Linked DNA regions of Homo sapiens: region 1 is reported to be linked to region 2. Evidence: microRNA targets listed by miRTarBase, many of them from high-throughput screens and not tested one by one. Region 2 holds a microRNA gene; the other region holds the end of a gene's coding sequence.
The links. The annotated mature microRNA hsa-miR-4753-5p reads CAAGGCCAAAGGAAGAGAACAG and lies in region 2 at 1,458-1,479, shown strand. An mRNA with a match to its seed (bases 2 to 7 or 8) in the 3' UTR can be bound and repressed. Matches are read on the target gene's strand: a 7mer-m8 pairs with bases 2 to 8, a 7mer-A1 pairs with bases 2 to 7 and ends in A, and an 8mer does both.

Region 1: miRTarBase lists R3HDM2 as a target of hsa-miR-4753-5p. Seed matches in the 3' UTR shown: 7mer-m8 at 2,248-2,254.

The regions. Positions count from the first base shown.
Region 1 is chr12:57,252,014-57,255,013 of GRCh38, forward strand. R3HDM2 (R3H domain containing 2) reads right to left here. Exons shown (of 24, transcript NM_001394031.1): 24 at 1,751-3,000. The coding sequence ends at 2,760. Among named protein-coding and RNA genes, the nearest start is that of STAC3, 2.3 kb to the left of the region's middle.
Region 2 is chr1:235,188,417-235,191,564 of GRCh38, reverse strand. It overlaps MIR4753 (microRNA 4753), which reads left to right and starts at 1,449; the gene lies at 1,449-1,531. All of the region lies in intron 19 of ARID4B (AT-rich interaction domain 4B), which reads left to right.

The sequences.
Region 1 (3,000 bases), not on the chromosome of region 2:
TTCTAAGTAATGTCCCCTTCCTCATGAGAACTGCAAACTCTTAAAGGTAGGATGGCCAACCCTCACACTTCCTAAACCCTTTTGATTCCCTGATTCCATCTCCCACCTTTGATGCCTCAGTATATAACTGATGGATCAAAGAGACAGATGCCATTCTCATCTCACAGGGGTGCACCCTTCTACTCTTTGGGCTGTGACATGGATGAAAGAGGAGATACTCCCATCTCAGGGGAGAGCAATTTAGAGGTGGCAATGCAGTGCTGCTCTATTCCTTGTATCTGTAAGAAATAAAGGACTGTGTTGGAGACTGGGTCAGGCAAGCTCCTGTAGGATCGTCGTTAGGGATACAGCTACTTGGACCCAAGAGATTTCCAGGGCAACGTGCTTTGTCATTCTCACCCACTACTTTTTTCTATTTAAGGGGGGAGTTTGAAAAGGGGGTGCAGGATGGTTCTGACTCTGCAGGTTCTTTAATGGCCCTGCTCTGACAGGCTGCAGAACAACAGGGCTTGCTTTGAGATGCTCTAAAGGAAAAGCTCCATCTTGCAGGCAAGATGACTTCTGCTCTTCGTCTTTTTTCAGCCACATAGGACAGGGACTGCTGAGCATGTTTGGATAATACAGCATCTTGGCACTGCGAGTTCAGTTGCTGTAGCTTTCATTGTAATAAAAATCTGCTTCTGTCCCTGACAGGTAAAACCCAATCCTCCAGCTTTAGGATTAAAGAAAGGCAGCCAGGCACGGTGGCTCACGCCTGTAATCACAGCACTTTGGAAGGCCGAGGCGGGTGGATCACAAGGTCAGGAGTTCGAGACCAGCCTGGCCAACATGGTGAAACCCCATGTCAACTAAAAATACAAAAATTAGCTGGGCACGATGGGGCACAGCTACTCAGGAGGCTGAGGCAGGAGAACTGCTTGAACTCGGGAGGTGGAGGTTGCAGTGAGCCGAGATATCGCGCCACTGCACTCCAGCCTGGGCAACAGGGCGAGACTCCATCTCAAAAAAAAAAAAAAAAGAAAGGCCCAAGTTCTCCATCCCTAAAGGGTTTTCAGAAGACGAGCTGGGCTGGGAGTGGTGGCTCATGCCTGTAATCCCAGCACTTTAGGAGGCCAAGGCGGGAGATCACTTGAGCCCAGGAGTTCAAGACCAGCCTGGGCAACATGGTAAAACCCTGTCTCTGCCAAAAATAGCAAAAAAAAAAAAAAAAAAGATTAGCCAGGCATGCTAGATCGCGCCTGTAATCCCAGCTACTCGGGAGACTGAGGCACAAGAATCGCTTGAACACGGGAGGCGGCTGCAGTCAGCTGAGATCTGCCACTGCACTCCAGCCTGGGTGACAGAGCAAGACCCTATCTCAAAACTCAACTACAAGGGCCCTAAATGAGTACACAGTACCACAGAATTAATAGTCTGGAAGGAAACCTAGAGGTCACCTACTAAGTCCAAGTCTCTTATTTTACTGATCTGGACACAGATCCAGAGTTGAGAAGTGATATGCTCGATGAACCACAGTGGCAGAACCGGGAGAGCCCAAAGCCATGGTCCCATTAGAGATCTAGCCATCTATCAGAACCGTGTACAGGGAAGAGGATGAGACAGAGGGAATGGTGTTAAAATAGTGTGCGTATGCTAGAGAAAGCCATCCCAACCCACGACAAACACCTCCAACAGCTGTAGGGCTATACCTACCCAGGGCCTCCAACCCTTTACCCATACCAGGGCGGCAACAGAGAAACAGTGACTGATGTCCAGTGACAGATTTTTTTTTTTATATTTAAAAACAAAACCAACCTCCCCCCAAATAACCCCCAAACAAACAAAAAAACAGATTAAATAAAATTTACAGTGAATATACCCAGCAAACATCTGTATGTGCAATTAAATACTGTGTCTGTTACTGCGGCACGAACCTCAAACAAACAATATACAAGTGTTCTGGGGGGGCCAGGGGAATCCCAAGTTTTAACTCTGTGGGGTCTAGGAAGACAAGATGGGGAAGTGAGAGAATGGGGCAATCAATTTTGTTTATCTTAATTCTGTCCATATAAATATATTCATAAAGACCAAAAAAGGAAAGGAAGCTTGGGATGTTAAGGTAATAGGAGGACAGTGTGGGACTTTCCCAATTCTACCTGACCAAAAAATGAGAAATTAATTTTATGATAGGAGAAGAGATTTAAAAAAATGATAGAAGAGGATGGAAGCCAGGCACAGTGGCTCACGCCTGTAATCCCAGCACTCTGGAAGGCCAAGGCAGGTGGATCACCTGAGGTCAGGAGTTTGAGGCCAGCCTGGCCAACATGGTGAAACTCCGTCTCTACTAAAAATACAAAAATTAGCCGGGCATGGTGGCGCGTGTCTGTAGTGCCAGCTACTTGGGAGGCTGAGGCAGGAGAATCACCTGAACCCAGGAGCTGGAGGTTGCAGTTAGCCAAGATCGTGCTACTGCACTCCAGCTGGGGTGACAAGAGCGAAACTCCGTCTCAAAAAAAAAAAAAAAAAAAAAAAGAAGAGGATGGGAAGAAGAGTGATGCAAGGGGGGTCAACCAGGGAAAAAGAGAGGACCCATGGCAGGGGAGCAAGAAGGAGTCCAATGCCAGTGTAGGTATCTGTGTTTCCATCTTCATCACTGTCTTAGGTTCCAGTTTAACATCAGTTTCCTTACTTCCTGCCTCTGTCCATGGTCTGTCAGGATCCTTCAACCCCCTCCACCCTGCCCTTGCTCCTTCTGTGACAGTCCCTTTCCCCTCCTCCATTTATTGGGAGCTGGCTCGCTCCAGGATCCTCAGGTCATAGTTCTTTTTGGCCATTCGAAGTTTGAAGCGACTCACGGAGTTGTTGAGACGAAGGGAGGCATTTTGGGCAGCCAGGGGGCTGGGGAACACAGCCACAATGGTGTACAAGGCAGCGAGGTCCGAGTGGCGGCCATTCTCAGCAGTCCCACTGTTGTCCCCCCCACCCCCTCCAGGCAGCCCCTGAGCATCCTTGAGCCACTGG
Region 2 (3,148 bases):
GACACATTTGGCTGGGCATAGTAGCTCACTCCTGTAATCCCAGCACTTTTGGAGGCCAAGGCGGGCAGATTACCTGAGGTCAGGAGTTTGAGACCAGCCTGGCCAACATGGTGAAACCCTGTCTCTACTAAAAAAAAAAATACAAAAACTTTGCCGGGTGTGGTGGTGGGTGCCTGTAATCCCAGCTACTTGGGAGGCTGAGGCAGGAGAATCGCTTGAACCCAGGAGGCAGAGGTTGCAGTGAGTCAAGATCACACCATTGCACTCTAGCCTGGGTAGCAACAGCGAAACTCCATCTTAAAAAAAATAAAATAAAAAGAATATGTGACACATTCGCAGTGGATGTTATGTGGGAGTGTGCTCAGTCGTAGTAGCAGACTACTCTATATATATTCTCATTCTAGGCTTATGGTGATTTACCCCTATTTTTCACAAGTAGGTCAGAATGTTTCTGCTGGATAAAATGATGTCATTAGCTGATCTAGGTAGTGGCACATAAGACATGGAAGGGAGAGCTGGAATTTCATTGACACATAGTTGAAACAAGATAAATACAGATTTTAAAATCCAGTCTGGGTCACTCAGGCATTCAAAGACTACAGAGAGGCGGTAGCAGGTAGCTTAATGATAATAGCCTGCAGTATGACTTTCTTTGGAAATAACACTGCTGTAGTCTGGACTGGTTTCCCTCTATATCTGTTGCACAGCTATTTTCCTAGGGAGATCCCATTCTAGGGATCTCCTTTAATGTAGTTCTTGGATTTCTTTGTTTTTGGCATCTCAGGTTCCTCCCCACCCCCATACTTTCATTTTGGTGGAGCACATTCTCTAGTAGCTTCTAAAGAACAAGTGCATGAGATGGAATTTTTAGAGATTGGCTGCATTTAAATATCTGTATTTATTTTTGCAAATATCTTTATTCTATTCATAGTTTGGCTGGATTGGAAGTTTTTCCTTCAGTATTTTATTGGCAGTGTTGAATTGTTTTTTTGCTTCCAGTATTGCTTTTGTGAAGTCCAGAGCTCTTCCAATTCCTGATTCTTTGTATGTGACTTGTTTTATTCTTTATTTTTTGCTTTTCTGTCTCTGGAATCTTTTTTTTTTCTTTTCTTTTTTTGAGATGGAATCTCACTCTGTTGGCCAAGCTGGAGTGCAGTGGCACAATTTTGGCTTACTGCAGCCTCTGCCTCCTGGGTTCAAGTGTTTCTCCTGCCTCAGCCTCCCGAGTAGGTGGGATTGCAGGGGCCTGCCACCACGCCTGGCTAGTTTTTCTATTTTTAGTAGAGATGGGGTTTTGCCATTTTGGCCAGGCTGGTCTCGAACTGCTGACCTCAAGTGATCCACTCACCTCAGCCTCCCAAAGTGCTGGGATTACTGGCATGAGCCACCATGCCCTGCTAGGAATCTTGAATCTTTGTTTTTCGTATCCAGAAATTTAACTCTGAAATATATCTACACAAGGCCAAAGGAAGAGAACAGATATATCCACAGTACACTTGGCTGTTCTCTTTCTTTAGCCTTGTGTAGATATATTTTCATCCCCTGTGATGCCTACTTGCTAGACTCTTTCATTCTAGCAACTTCTGTCTTTCTGTTCTAGGCAGTTTTTTTGAATGATTTTCTTGATGATTTCCTCTCCTGCATTTTACTGTTCTCTCCTTTTTAATTTTTGTTCATTGTTACTATTTTTGAGATGAGGTGTTACTATATTGCCCAGGCTGGTCTCAAACTTCTGAGCTCAAGCGATTTTCCTGTCTCAGCCTCCCAAAGTGCTAGGATTACAGGCATGAGCTACTGTCCCAGCCCTGCCAAATTTTTTTTTTTCTTTAATTGAGACTGTGTTTCACTATGTTCAGCCCAGGCTGTTCTCACACTTCTGGGCTCAAGCAGTCCTCCTGCCTCAGCCTCCCAAGTAGTTGGGTAGCTGGGGTATAGGTGCATGACACTGCACTTGGCTGTTATCTTTCTTTGGCCAGCCATTATTTGATATTATACCTTCTGTAATATACTCTAATATGCTCACCTTTTAATTTCTTGCTTTTTATTAATTTTTTTGTCTTTTTATTTCTTTGAAATTTTATCTGCTTTGTCTTTTAATCCTTTTGTTGACTTTTTGCTGTAATGTTTAAGTTTTCAATGATTTTTTTTTTTTTTTTTTTTTTTTTGAGACTGAGTCTCACTCTGTTGCCTAGGCTGGAGTGCAGTGGCATGATCTCGGCTCACTGCAATCTCTGCCCTCCAAGTTCAAGCGATTCTCCTGCCTCAGCCTCCCGAGTAGCTGGTATTACAGGCGCCTGCCACCGCACCCAGCTAATTTTTTGTATTTTTAGTAGAGATGGGGTTTCACCATCTTGGCCAGGCTGGTCTTGAACTCCTGACCTTGTGATCCACCTGCCTCAGCCTCCCACAGTGCTGGGATTATAGGCGTGAGCCACTGCGCCCAGCCTTTCAATGAATATTTTTAAATTAAACTAGTTTAATTTTTCAAGAGCTCTGTTTTCTGTGTGTTTTGTACCACTCTGTTCTTATAGATGGATGCAATACCTTACCTTTCGGATTTTGATCTTTCAAAGGATTTTATAATTTTTGGTTTTTTCAGTTACCTCTAATTTGCTTTTTTCTGTGTTGTTGTTTTGAGCTCTTCCCTATTAAGAATTTTTTTTCCTGGCTGTCTTATGATTATGAAGGAAAGACTAAACTGATTTGGAAATTGCAAGCATATGGTTGGCACTTGTTGACCTTGAGTTTCACTATCGGGTGATCTGGTTGGCCATGTCCTAGGGAATTCATAATATGAAGTCTTTAGGTCTTTTTCTCTTAGACTAGTTGGCTTCCAGAGAAAAGAGTTCCAATCTCTTGACTGGAGGGTGGTAAGAGAATGGTTTCCAGTGTTCTAGGATCTAGTTGAAGAACAGAGAGTGGGGTGGAGGATTCTTAGTGGTTAGATATGTTCATGAATCCCCCTAATTTCAGCATCGCATCTGTACCTGTGCCTTCAACAGTTGTTAGCATCTCCCAGGCTAGGAGCCCTCTCCTACTGTCTTCAGAGAATAAAGCTCTAGAAGGGCAGTCACCTTCCAACCTGAAGTGAGGTGGGGATCTAGGCATCTAAGTAATTTTTAGTCTTCACCCAGTGCTCCTTGTATGA